Homo sapiens: one gene and its partners. The protein of the gene in region 1 interacts with the protein of each later gene in a pairwise test. Each region holds a gene or a part of one and is shown on either strand. Other genes may lie near its edges.

What was found.
Region 2: the proteins of FBH1 (region 1) and ZDHHC17 interact in a two-hybrid assay, tested with the Homo sapiens proteins (one large-scale study listed by BioGRID and IntAct).
Region 3: the proteins of FBH1 (region 1) and APBB1 interact in binary tests that used the Homo sapiens proteins (3 or more experiments, as listed by UniProt).

What each region holds. Positions count from the first base shown.
Region 1 is NC_000010.11:5,895,676-5,901,219, forward strand, and holds part of FBH1 (F-box DNA helicase 1), read left to right. Parts: exon of another isoform or gene 1-1,383; coding exon of another isoform or gene 1,384-1,795; intron 1,796-4,857; exon of another isoform or gene 4,858-4,877; intron 4,878-5,544. UniProt on the Homo sapiens protein: 3'-5' DNA helicase and substrate-recognition component of the SCF(FBH1) E3 ubiquitin ligase complex that plays a key role in response to stalled/damaged replication forks.
Region 2 is NC_000012.12:76,766,266-76,770,689, reverse strand, and holds part of ZDHHC17 (palmitoyltransferase ZDHHC17), read right to left. Parts: intron 1-4,424. UniProt on the Homo sapiens protein: Palmitoyltransferase that catalyzes the addition of palmitate onto various protein substrates and is involved in a variety of cellular processes.
Region 3 is NC_000011.10:6,412,520-6,416,943, forward strand, and holds part of APBB1 (amyloid beta precursor protein binding family B member 1), read right to left. Parts: intron 1-4,424. UniProt on the Homo sapiens protein: Transcription coregulator that can have both coactivator and corepressor functions. Adapter protein that forms a transcriptionally active complex with the gamma-secretase-derived amyloid precursor protein (APP) intracellular domain.

The DNA.
Region 1 (5,544 bases):
GGAGGGTTCTTTTTAAAGCAGTAGTCCGAGGATTGAGGCTGCTGGAGGCTCTTCTATTTTGAACACCCGGCTTCTAAGGATGTCCTGGGAATCAGCTTCCCAGTTAAGGGGAAGAGGAGAAGAGTGGAGGGCAGGTCTGGAAGAGGCGTGTGCTGCTGCTGTTCCCATTGCATTGGCTGGCACCCAGCGGTAAGGCGACATCCACCTGCACGCAGGACTGGGAAGTATAGCCCAGCTGTGTGCTCAGGGAGAAGAGCAACAACATTCTTTGCAGCAAAACCTGAAACACTCAGTTTCACTTTCTGTGACTTGTTTTGTAAGTTGTTTTCAATAAAGAAGATTAAAAAAAGAAGCCAGGCAAATGAAAGCATAGGGGAGGAGTGGCAGACACGCAGTTCTCACTCTGCGACTGCAGGAGTGTCTCTTGTTTCCCCCTTGTGCACTTTGAGGAATGAGGGGATAGACGTGGTCCCTTCCTTTTAGTTCCCCGTAGCAGAGTTCTTGTAAGGACTCGTTCAGGGGAGACTGATAAGGGTCTCATCTCCATCGGGGGACCTCACCAGGGCATGGAGTGGGTCAGAGTGGGCTGGGAGGGGATAGACTGTCATCAAGGTGAAGAGATTTGAGGGGTGGTGGAGGGCTAAACTCCAGATCTGACCACTTCAAAGTCAGCAAAGGCCAGGAATTGCTGGGGTAGGGCTAAAAGCTGAGGGTTAGCAAAGAGAGGTGGGTCCTGGAATGGGGACCCCTGGGGTGGAGGACAGAGAAGTCACACTGTTAGAAAGCCGTCACAGAAAAGGCAGTGTGGGAATGAGCTTACTTAAGCCTAGGGAATATTCATTTGACAAAATGGTTTGTGTACATTCTGGTTTTTCTACCCTGACACCTGAGGGCTCTAACACATTTCTGTTGGTTATTGTGGAAGAGAGTGTCCAAGGGTGGGAGCACAGATGCCGAATTTGGTGTGTAGGAGACCAATTTCAACAACTCTGGGGGCCTTGTAGAGTTTGCAAAGCCCCGTAAGTGATTCTAATCTCTCTGCACCCACAAGAACCCCTAGTTTAGACACAGCTTCCCTTTATCTGTGGTCATTCACCACAGATAATTTCATTCCCTAAAGAATCACAAGCAGCTTCTAACAGTAAATGCCCTTTACAGGAGGTGTAAAGTGCACTTGCTGTGTAGAGAGGGAGGCATACCATGAGCTTTGCGTGACTCAGGGAAGGAGGATTTTTATGGAAGAAGTAGCATTTGAGCATTCTTATTTTGATAAAGTTATTTTTGAACTGCTTTTTAAAAAGGTATATTAATAAGAATAGAAGGGTGATTAGAATTCTAGTGTAGTGTTTTGGTTTTATTTTTAACCATTTAGCAAGAACATTAATGCTATTAAAACTGATGTGCCTTAGGAGACCCTCAGATTGGTGTGGTAGTCACATATTTCTTCTGACGTTTCTGTTGCTAGGTGTTGACATAGATTTAGAGATAGGTGTTGTCACCCTCAATGTGGGTGGCTTGAGTACTTACATATATATTGTCTCATTCTCTGAATTCAGCATGGCAGGTTATTATAATCCTCGTTTTCATAAGCAAGGCTTTGGCGATGAATATACCTGCCAAGTGTGGGTCTTCTCCTGCACCCCACAGCCTCGGAGGGGCTTTAAGGGAACATTAAGTGTAAAGCGTGTAATTGCAGAGGAGGTGGACACAGGGCTCCTGCGGAGGAGGTGGACACAGGGCTCCTGGCTCCCAGTTCAGAGCATCACAGCACCTCTCTCTGAGACCAGAGATACAGGTTAGTTTTCCTGACCTCCAGCTGACGTTAGAAAAGTTATTTTTGATACATATATCCAATAAGTCCAAGGGGTGGGGAATCCAATAAAAGTGTTAATAAAAATCCAATAAAAGTACCAGCTCTCCCGCCAGCCAAACTATGGCTGGTAACGCCATTCCAGTTATATAGGTTACTTATCTTAGTGCACAGAGGCCAGATCACCAGTCTAAGCGCCCCTCCCCCGGTACCGAACCTCAGTTCCTCCCAGGGTGGCTTCATGCCAGAACATATTGGAATATACCGGGACTCCCTTGAAGCAGAACACAGTGTTCCAACACTCCCATTAGCACTTTCTGTTACTCCTGTGTCTTTGTTAGATTTCTGCAAACACTTAATCTTCGCAACAAGCATTTTGGATTCAGACGTATTTTCTGAGATAAATACATAAATAAAAATCTATCCTGTTCATATTACCTTTTCCAAAGCAGTTCCCTTTGGGACTGAACATTTTTGATGTTCTGTCATCAGTCTGTTGTGAGCTACCAGGGAGGTCTCCCTGTGGGAGCAGTTCTGTAGTATATTCCTAGGGATTAGAGTGTAGGCTCCTGGACCTCCCAGCCGAATTCTTCTCCCTGCTCCTCATCCTTCTTGACCCACTCAGTATTCACAGAACGTGTGCTGCCTCAGTCCATTTGGGCTGGTATAACAAAATACCATAACTGGGCCGCTTATAAGCAGAAGTCTCTCTCACTCACAGATCTGGAGGCTGGAAGTCTAAGATCGAGGTGCCAGCAGATTTGGTGTCTGGTGAGGGCCGCTTCCTGGTTCATAGACGGCACCTTCTCTTTGTGTCCTCACATGGTGGCAGGAGTAAGGGAGCTCTCTGAGACCTCTCTTATAAGGGCACTAATCCCATTTGTGGGGACTCCACCCTTGTGACCTTATCACTTCCTAGAACCGCATTTTTTTTTTTTCTTTTGAGACACAATCTCTCTCCATTGTCCAGGCTGGAGTGCAGTGGCACAATCTTGGCTCACAGCAACCTCCACCTCCCGGGTTCAAGTGATTCTTGGGCCTCAGCCTCCTGAGTAGCTGGGGTTACAGGTGCCCGCCACCACACCTGGCTAATTTTTATATTTTTAGTAGAGATGGGGTTTCACTATGTTGCCAGGCTGGTCTTGAACTCTAGACCTCAAGTGATCCACCCACCTTGGCCTCTCAAAGTGCTGGGATTACAGGCATGAGCCACTGTGCCTGGCCCAGAGCCCCACCACTTCATACCGTCACCTTGCGGGTGAGGATTTCAGTGTGTGAATTTCAGGGACATGAACGTTGAGTACATGGCACAGACTATATGTCTGGCCCCACGCTATCTACATACAGAGTTACAGCAGTGAACCAGGTGGGCTAGCTGCTTACCTTGGGGCATGCTTACTGTCTTTTCGACTCTCAGGCATGTGATGAGACATCTCCATCTCATTGATGGTCATTATCAATGCACCGTTGTTACAGTGAGGTGGCTGCAGAAGGCTTCGATAAAGCCATTCTTACATACTTCACAAAAAACGTTCCAGGGTTCACCCTGCATGTGTAGGTACCTCTTCTATACAAATCTGCCAGCCTCTGTTTGTAGCTGTTTCCAAAAGCCAAATGTAGAAGGCCATCATAGATTTGGGTGGGCATCAGACCCTTCAACTGAGCCTGATTTTCTCACTGGTTATGTGCCTTTTCGTTGACTTTCAGAAGCCTTCGGTACCTGACACACCATTCAGCTAAGCAGGCCTGCAGCTGGCCTGAGGTCCTGGGTCTCAGATATGAGTGGTTTGATGTTGATCTTGCTCCTTTGTGATTTTTTGTTTTGTTTGTTTTGTTTTGTTTTGTTTTTTTCCTTCATGATTTTATCCATGAAAGCTTTTCTTCTCCAGGCCATTGTGGCAGTAGATGTTCACCTCCTATTTAAGTGAGATATTCACTCTTGGTAACTTTCTTTAGTGAGTGTCTCCAGTTATTTATTTTATTTTTTTCCTTTTTTCCTTACCCTTCATCAGGACACATAGTGTCTCCAGTTCTAATTGTAGATACTGTACTGACCAGCTCTGAAGCAATTGGGACTGTTTGAGGAGAGAGAAAAGCAGGCATGAGTCCACTCTGTTGGATCTATAGGGCCTGTGGATTTGCTGCCCGGAGTCCTGCAGCTGCTCCTGCTGTTGAGCATTGTGTGGGGCACCTCACCCAGGATTTTCGGGTGTTCTGGAAGCCATGTTGCCGCTCTACCTGTCTCTTTTGCAGATATGCCCAGAGGTCCCCATTCAGGCAAAATAGTCCTTGCGTTATATTTGTAATATGAAGGGTTTTGAACACAGGAAATAAAATTTCATCTTATTTTTTAAAAAGAGAACAACAAGACTTTGTTTTCTTTCCAATGTAGAAAACTTCAAATTTAGTTTTTAATGTAGAGAAACTTCACATTCATATTTTGTTTCTGTGTGAATAAGATGATTTGCTGTTGTTTTCCTCTAAATAAACTGGTCAGCAACATTACAGAACCAGCACAAACCAGCACAAAACCATCAAAGTGGAGGGGGTGTTTGCTTTTCTGTTCATAATAAGCGAGACATGTTACTGGTTAGTTTAGAAGGTATTTCCAGTAATACAGAATTGGCTGTATTTGGGCTGCTAATACACTTCCTGCTTTGCCATTAGGTGGCATCTTTATAATTTGAAGGATATTTCAATGTCTTAGGCAGGCTACTCACATAAGCCTTGTTAAATAGAGGAAACAGGTAAGTTTGTATGCATGCAGTTGGATAATTTGACAGACAGTTTTGAGCATATTTTCTCATCTGTTCCTGATGACACTTATCAGACTTAGATGAGATTGGGCGCGTTCAGGGTGGTATGGCCGTAGACCTATCAGACTTAGAGACCTGAGGTGCCCTGAAGCCATAGAGCAACCAAGTGGCCAGCTGAGGGTGCCAGCCCAGCCCTCCCGCCAGGCCCTCGCCGGCTCACCACGCTGCGCTGTGCTGCTTCGTGAGAGTGAGCGCATCTGTGATTGCTGAGGCCTGGCGCTCATGGGGTTGCACCCAGCTTCTGAGTTCAGGTAGTTAGACGATTTCCAGCGTCCTTTCAGAGGGGCTCTCAGAACTGCTTTTGTTTGTAGAATTGATTTTGGAAAAGTCTTAAAATATTCATGAAGTTTTTTTTTAAAAAAGCTGGTATTAAACCTTGAAAAAGTTAACTGAAATTTGGAAGGGTGATTTCTGAATTAGCTAGGGAGGAATAATGAAAAAATATTGTAAACTATATCAGCTAAATCACTGGGGTCTTGGCTTTATGTATTTTCAAGCTTAAAGGAAATGTCAAGCTGGGCACAGTGGCTCACATCTGTAATCCCAGCACTTTGGGAGGCCGAGGTGGACGGATCACTTGAGGCCAGGAGTTCGAGACCAGCCTGGCCAACATAGTAAAACCCCGTCTCTACTAAAGATACAAAAGTTAGCTGGGTGTGGTGGAGGGGGCCTGTAGTCCCAGCTACTTGGGAGGCCAAGGCAAGAAAATCACTTGAACCCAAGAGGTGAATGTTGCAGTGAGCCAAGATTGTGTCACTGTGCTCCAGCCTAAGCAACAGAGGGAGACTCTGTCTCAAAAAAAGAAAAAAGAAAAAAAAAGAAATGTTGAGTGAGATTCTGGCATTTGATACCATAGTTTAGTGGTGGAGTATTCTTTATTTTCTTTTTGAGATGGAGTTTCACTCTTGTTGCCCAGGC
Region 2 (4,424 bases), on another chromosome or scaffold:
CCGCAATTACAGGCGTAAGCCACCAAGCCCGGCCAGCACACTGCATTTTAAGACACCTTAACTGTTCAATGCTGACTACCTTAACATACCCTTACAACCCTCTCTAGGAGGAAAGGAGGACCACGAATCATTTCTAATTTTAAAAAATACACACAGACACACTCTCCCTCATCTATCCTGAGGTATCTGAAGGTCTACAGTTAATCTTACATCATTTTACAATGTGTTATTTTGTAAATGTTATTACTTCGGAGCCTAGCAAAGGGTCAAGACCATACTTGGATTCTCAATAAACACTCCCTTGTAGCAAAGCACACGTCTTTAAAAACATCAAATAGGGCAAAAGGGCTTATAATAAGAAGTCCTCTGCCCATCTTCTCTTCAATCCCCAGAGACAACCAATACTAATTATTTTAGCCACTCTAATATATGCATACTACAATTGTTTATCAATTTGAGGTACTACTTTTTACCACAATATTAATAGCCAACACTTATTGTTGTTTACTAAGTGCCAGACACAGAACTTCACATGTATTATCTCACTTAATCCTCACAACAGCCTCATAAAGTAGGTGTTATTATACCCCCATTTTAGTTTGGAAAATTGGGATGCAGAGTTCAATAACGTGCCCAGGATTGCAAGCTAGTGAGCAGAATTGAGATTTGAATCCTAACACCATTGCTCACTTTTAACCTATATACTCTTATATCCACCAACTCCACAGTCCACTCTTAATAAATACTTTTGAGATCCTCCCAAATTAAATAAAAATAATGAACAAAATAAAACAAGCCGAATCAGGAAAATGACATTTCTCAAAACCAGAACAATTTTTTGGTCAGTAATTTTCAACTCTGGCTTTGAGCACAATCCATGAAGTCTCACCAATTAATCACATTTTAATTTTATATCTATTGACTCAGTGATTACTAAGCTTAATAGTAATGCTCAGTGGTTACTGGGCTTAACAGTGGTCACTATACTAAGCATAGTAGTTACTAAGCTTAATATATAGTATTTTAAAATATACATTATTTTAAAATCTAGATTATTATTATATGACCTATAACATTTTTGCTGAATTTTTTAAAAGGCATCAAATCCTAGTGACTGCATAAAGAAGTGCTTTGAAGGAAAAGAGTTGCAGGTAACCTATGGGAAGAAAAACAACTTTCAAAGTCATTTTGTATCTGCTTTCTGAAAGCAAATGAATTACCTTATATGTGTACAAATACATATATATACACACACACATATAATATATACATAATAGGGCAAAAAGTAATAGAAAATGGCAAAATTCTTTTCACTAAAGAACAGCTTCATGGCCGAGCATGGTGGCTCATGCCTGTAACCCCAGCAGTTTGGGAGGCCGAGGCGGGTGGATCACCTGAGGTCAGGCGTTCCAGACCAGCCTGGCCAACATGGTGAAACCCCATCTCTACTAGAAATACAAAAAATTAGCCACGTGTGGTGGCAGGCACCTGTAATCCCAGCTACTCGGGAGGCTGATGCAGGAGAATCGCTTGAACGCAGGAGGCTGAGGTTGCAGTAAGCCGAGATCACGTCATTGCACTTCAGCCTGGGCAACAAGAGCGCAACTCCATCTCAAACTAAAGCAAAAAACCAAAAGCTTCAAAAAGTAGATTTTATGAAATCTGTGAGGACAGTAGATAATAGCAATAGTTTGATTTAATATTCAAACAGAAATCATCAGAAATAATAAAATGAATGTGAAATAAAAAACGTTACCATAAAAAGAGAGACGAAAATGAGAAAAAAAGGCAATAGCAGAAGTTTTGAAATAGAGAAAAAAGGAAGAAAGAAAGAGATGAAAGCCCTAGATAATCTAGGCAATCCAGTTCAAAGCTCTGAGTCAGATGGTTCTGAAATAGCCCCTGTGATACTGTGGCAGAAGGGGATATTGTGATCTCATTCTATCAAAGAGCTGAGATGACTTACTGAGGATGTACTAGTAGGTAAAATGGAAGCTGGTCATGGCTAGTCTGCTGGACCAGTAGACCAACATATGGTCTCTGTCCCTCTACGGAAGCCTTTCTTCTAACCACTCTAAATGACAGGAATCTGACACCACTTACAAGCTACATTACTTAATTCAGTACTTATTTGAATCGTCCAGTGTTTCACGTGCCTACAACTTCCCAACTAGTTATTTACCTTCTGGAAAACATATGCTATCTTTTTTATGTTATTTTAACCCATATAACCTAACACAATGCTACGTACCTAGTAGACAGATGCTCAAGTTGATTATATTGAAAAATCACAATTTAAAACCAGAACACTTGAGTCTGAAGAAATCTTAGAGGTCATCTAGTCTAGCTACTTTATCTTAAAAGCAACAAAACTGAGACCAGTTAAATACCTACTAGCTCAAGGTCACTGAGCTAGAACTAGTACCCTAATCCCTTGATCATCAGTTCTTCTTTATCCAAAGAGCCTTTAATTTCTTTCATTTCAATAAAACAAATAATCACCTATTTCAAAAGAAAACAAAGTAACAGCAGCTTCCCTTTCAGTATTCACTATATGCCAGGGCCTTCAGAAGGTACAATTTGCTTGGCAGCCTATGTGCCTAGGTCTATGAAAACTGCTTTATAAACATTAGCCTAGTTAATATTCACAATAACTGTAAAAGGTGTCACTATTAACCCAACTTTACAAATGAGAAAAATGTACTTTGACCATGATAACAGTAAGCTGCAGAAGCTACATTTTCAGTTTGTCACCACAGCTTTGGATTTTTTTTTTTTTTAAGAGAGTTTTGCTCTTGTTGCCCAGGCTGGAGTGCAATCTCGGCTCACTGCAACCTCCACCTCCCGGGTTCAAGCAATTCTCCTGCCTCAGCCTCCTGAGGAGCTGGGATTATAGGCATGTGCCACCACGCATGGCTAATTTTGTATTTTTAATAGAGACAAGGTTTCTCCATGTTGGTCAGGTTGGTCTTGAACTCCGAACCTCAGGTGATCCGCCCGCCTCGGCCTCCCTAAACCCTGGGATTACAGGCGTGAGCCACCACGCCCAGCCAACTTTGGCTCTTAACCAGTATTCTACACTGCCTCTCACTGAACACCAAAAATATCCTGAAGTCTCACACAGACTCCAGCACAATTCCTTACCCAAACATGACAAACAAATGTTTAAATGACCAACTAAATGAGTGGATGATTTAATTCATTAAAAAGTAAGATTATCTTACCTAAAATACCTCTAAAAAGGCGTTTATCTAATTGTATAATCCTCTAAGAAAGGTTTTAACAGTGGGCAGTTTGCATACTAATAAGAGATTTAAGCAATGCTCATTTCTTTACCCACAAATAATTCATCTGCTTAACAAATACTAAAGTGAAAAACTGTTTTTGTGTGAGAGTATTAAATTGGAAGATAAAAAGTGAAATGAAATTTGTTCCTGCAAGATCCTATTCCACTAAATTAAAACCCACATAAGTTTTAAATCAGTCACCAAAACCAAAATAAATGTGTAACACTTCCCTTTCTTCTGGTAGAGAAAAAAGAAGTAACATTAACTGAGCACCTACAATGTGCCAGTTCTTGACCCTCAACATATAGCCTCACTTAATCCCTTACAGCCAAGTAAACTAGGCAGCATCTCCATTTTCTTTTCTTTTCTTTTTTTTTTTTTTTTGAGACATAATCTTGCTCTGTCACCCAGGATGGAGTACAGCTGCTCGATCATGGCTCACTGCAGCCTCAACCTTCCAGGCTCAAGCAATCCTCCCACCTCAGCATCCGATTAGCTGGGACTACAGGCGTGTACCACCATGCTCAGCTAATTTTTGTATTTTCTGTAGACACAGAGTTTTGCCATGTTGCCCAGGATGGTCTCGAACTCCTGGGCTCAAGTGATTCTCTCACCTCGGCTTCCCAAAGTGCTGGGACTACAGGTGTGAGCCTCCGAGCCCAGCCAGGATCTCCATTTTCTGATTACAACTGAAGCTTAAAGAAATTAAGCACTTGTCTCAGGTCACTTAGCTAGTTACCGAATTTCCAGAATTAGAATCCAAGTCTGTCTGACCCAAAGTCTATGTTCTCTCCAAAAAGAGGTTAAAAGTACTATTATTTCATTACTTACCAAGACAGAGAATGGGTTTCTTCCCAAAGGAGACTGAAAACACTGCTTATTTTAACAACAAAAACATATTATCTCAGTTAATCCTCGCTATAGCTTATTAACTATTATTTTTATCCATTATAAATGATGAAACTAGAACTCAGAGACGTATTCATAGCTTGCCCAAGAACACACTGCTAGGAGGCAGCAGAACTACCCCAGGTCTGCACCAGCTGCACACACTAACCACAGAAAATGCAGAAAGACCTCAGCCATGTAGTACAAGCTTAAGGTCCATCCAAAGTATTAAAATAATCAGACCTTGTG
Region 3 (4,424 bases), on another chromosome or scaffold:
CACAGGCTACCTCCGCCCCTCCTCAGCAATCCCTAAACTCTTCCCCAGCGCCTGTCACCATCTGACAAGCCAATTTATTATTTACTTTGTCTAATGATTGTCTCCTCATGACTATAATTTATAATTTCCATGTTGGTGAGGATTTTGCCTTTTTGGTTAAATACAGTATGCCTAGTGCCTAGCGTAGTCCTGGCACAGAGCAGGAACTCCATTAATATTTGCTGAATGAATGTATGAATCAGTCCCCATTTCCTCCAGGCTTCGCTTTGGCATCTCCTCTGCCAGTGTCAGAAAACACTTTGGTTACGTTACTATGCCTTATGGTGCCCCAAACAAACTCCACCTGCCTCTCAGGTAAGAGGACGTCCTGTTCCGCAAGGACAGCTCCCCCTCCAGACCCCTCCCTCTGCCTCCTCACAGCCCTTCGTGGGTCAGTTTCTCCGCAACCATTTGAGTCCCAACTATCCTTCCAGCCCGCCACCCAGGGACCCACCCTCGGCCCCATTCCATCCTCCCCACTCTCCCTGACCTTCCAGTTGCTCTGCTGCTCTCCTTCCCGGACCCCCAAGAGAAAGTGCTCTCTCCCTGGACCCTCACCAGCCCCCGATTTCAGTTATTTCTCCCTGACCAACCACTGCCCACTTCTCTCTCATCCTGAGCCCTCCATGCAAGCCCTCCTTCAGACAGCCCCTACCACATTACTCTCTCCTCCCTCGATGGCCTCACTGATTCTCTTGCCCTACCCGACCCTTCCCCCAACAGACAATTCTCCCTCACTGACCATCCCAACAAACACTGCACTGTGCTCTTTCTCATTCCCACTGTACAGACCTTTCTCCTTGATGTCTTATCTGAGAGTTCCCTATCTCCCTGTTCCTCTACTAAGGAGTTCTTTCTTTCCCTGACTCACCACTACCCCCCTTCCCTCTGTGTTCTCAGCGCTGAGCACAGGTCTTGCAGCTACCTGAGCAGGGCTTGCCCATCTCTCCAGGTGCGGTGCGCCCAGGCTGGAGTGCAATGGCACGATCTCAGCTCACTGCAACCTCCTGCAGCCTCCTGAGTAGCTGGGATTATAGGTGCCCACCACCACGCCCAGCTAATTTTTGTAATTCTTTTTTTTTTTTTCTTTTAAGTAGAGATAGGGTTTCACCATGTTGGCCAGGCTGGTCTCAAACTCCTGACCTCAGGTGATCCACCCGCCTCAGCCTCCCAAAGTGCTGGGATTACAGGCGTGAGCCACCGCGCCCGGCCCCATAGCTCACCTTTCTACGTCTCTAGTTCCTCAGACACTAGTGCTATGCTACCCACACATCTGTAAGATGAAAAAGGTTTCTGCGCACGTGTCTGCCTCACGTGGGGCTGTTGATCTGCTCAGTGTGACTCCTCCTGGCCAATGAGAAAACTCACAGCCACTGGAATAAATGAAGAAAAAAATAGCTCTACCTCCTCCCAGAACCACAGTAATCTTCCAAAAATGGAAACCAGATTGTGTCACTCCCTGGTTCAGAAAATGAGAGGGCTCACCACTGCCTTTCGGATAACGCCTGCACTCGTTCGCAGACACCCAAGAGCCCTCTTAAGCCGGCCTCTATAACCTGTCAGTCCCCTCCCCACCTCCCGCCTCCTTTATACCTTATACTCTAGCCACATGAAGCGTGGCGGATTCTGAAACATGTCGCACACTCTTAAAGCCCTGGGTCTTTGTTTATACTGCTCCCTCGGCCTGGAATTCTGTCTCCCCTTGTGAGAACCTCTGCTTGTATTTCAAAACTAACCTCAGCAGTTACAGCTCCTAAGCAGTCTTTCCTGTTCTCTCCCCACCATCAAGTGACTGTTCTCTCCTTCGTGTCTCACAACACCCAGAACCACATTCTATCAGAATATCTGAGACGGTGTCTTATTCAATTTCACATTCCCATTACCAAAGAGAGTGTGCCGTGTGCCGACACAGACTGGGCTGTTGCAGAAGGAAAGGACGGATGAACGGGACAGACACAGGGGGTGGGAGGATCCAGGAAGCTCAGAACTGGCTGGGAATAAATACCAAGAAAGGCTGTGTGGCCCAATGGGCTGGGGAGGAGCAAAGGGAGTGTTTGGGAGGGTGTCAGAGAATGCCAAAGGGTCCCTGAGTGGGAAGTAAGATGGGACAGGAATCCTGGAGAGGTGAGGGCTGAGATCTAGGAAAAGGGAGCGAGGGAGGTAGCTTAAACCAACATCTTGGCACAGACACTGTTCAAGAGTGGCATCTCCATGGGTGTCAGGAAGCAGAAGACTCCACGACTCTGCCATGCTCAGAGGACCTTAAGGATGGCAAACCCTTCTCTGAAGCAGTAGTGTACAGAGCCAGGTTTCTCAAAGGTCAGGCAGAGACCAACCTCCTAGGCACTAGGAGATATGATCTGAGAAGAGTGCATGCACTGTGAGGCTGAAACAGTGAAGAGCCAAGTTGACCTCAGGGCAGCCCCGCCAATCTGGTCACCAGGGCAGGAAGTATTAGAGGAAGAATGGTGAAACTGTTTAAGTGCTGAAGCCTGAGCATCTAGCCTGAGGTGGTGTGGTCACCAACACCCCACTGCTCGAGGTCAAAAAGATGATCTCAGTCCAATTTTTTAAAGAAGGAACACAACCTAATCTCTCCCCTCTCATTGGAGTTACCAAAGGATGCAAAGAGCCAACTGGGTTCTGGCTCAAGGCAGGGAGTTGGGCAGGGGCCTCGGGGCAGGAAGTGAAAGAAGTAGTCACTAAGCCTGAAGATCCTGGCATCAGACCACAGGGGTTGGGGTTGAGTCTTGCTCAAAGTCAGGAGTTGTCTAATCTGACAGCTTCCCATATGCCAGGCACTGTGCTAGACACAGGGGAGAGTGATGAAGACAAAAGAAATGGTTCTTCCTCTGGAGGAGTTCTCAGTTCAGCGGGAAACAGTCATTGAACAACTTGTTACAATGCAGTGTAACACCAACATCTAGAACAGTGCCTGGCACCCATAGCATTCCCTATTTGTTGACTGAATATCATGAAGGAGGAAGAGGAGGGCATTACAGGAACCTGGGGCTTACTACAGCCAAGACATCAGCAAAGGCCTGCCTGAGACTAGGACATAACTCTCCATTGGCCACCCGTCTCAGAGGCTGATCTCCCCTCCTGATTCACAGAGGAAAGGGAAGCCATCCAACTGGGTAACATCCTCAAACATAAAAACCTAACCAAACTTCAGCACCTATCCCTTTCTCTCCTTCCCAAAACCAACTGCTTCACCTATGATTTGGATTCTTCCTATGATGCCTTTCCAGGAATTTTATACCACTGTTTATCTATTTTCTCCTCTATATGATCAACCTCTCCTTCTCAATAGGATCCACGGTCTCCCAACTTGACCTGACGCTCCTCCAGATCCACTCACTGCTCTCTTTCCTCCCCCATACAGGCAAACTTCCTGAGAGAGTTGTCTCCACTCACTGTTGCCACTTCCTCACCTCCCACTCACTCCTCAACCCTTTCCAAACCTGCTTCCACTCCCAACACGACTCAGTAACAGCTCCTACCAAGGTCAACATGACCCCTGTGTCATTCAATCCAACAGACACAGTGCTCGTCTTGGTTGTCCTCCCAGCAGCATCTGACCCCGTGAATCTCTCATCCAGCCTCTATCCGGGGCCTCCACACTCTCATCTCCACACTCCTCATCTCATCTCATCTTTTACACTTCTTGTTACTGTTTGCTGGGTTCCTAGACTCCTCTGCTGGCTCATCTTCCTCTATTAGCCATTACCTGCTGGAGTTTCTTATGGCTTATTCTCATGCCCCTTCCTCTTTCTCATCCTATAATCAGTATAAGTATTCATTAATGCCCACAGCTTCAGTTATACACTGATGATTTCCCAATTCAAATCTCCATTTCAGACCCCTCACCTGAGCTCCAGACAAGTACATTCAACTTTCTACTCAACATCTCCACTTGGATGTCTCAAGCTAATAGACCCACTCATGTTTCCCACTCCCACACACTAACTGGTCCTCTTTCAGGATCCCGGCTCATGGAATGATAGAATCCATCCTATTCTGTGAATCTGAAGTAGGGGTACATCTTGACATGTCCTTCTCCTGCACTTGCTATGTTCAATCCATCTCTAGGTACTGATGATTTCCTCTCTGAGAAAAATTTCTGGACTTCATCTACTCTCCACATCCACTACCATCAAGGACAAAGACCTTAAGACAAAATTCCCTTTTTTTTTTTTTTGCGATGGAGTCCTGCTGTGTCACCCAGGCTACAGTGCAGTGGCAAGATCTCGGCTTACTGCAACCTCTGCCTCCCGGGTTCAAGCGATTCTTCTGCCTCAGCCTCCTGAGTAGCTGGGATTACAGGCACACACCACCATGCCCGGCTAATTTTTGTGTACTTTTAGTAGAGATGGGGTTTCGCC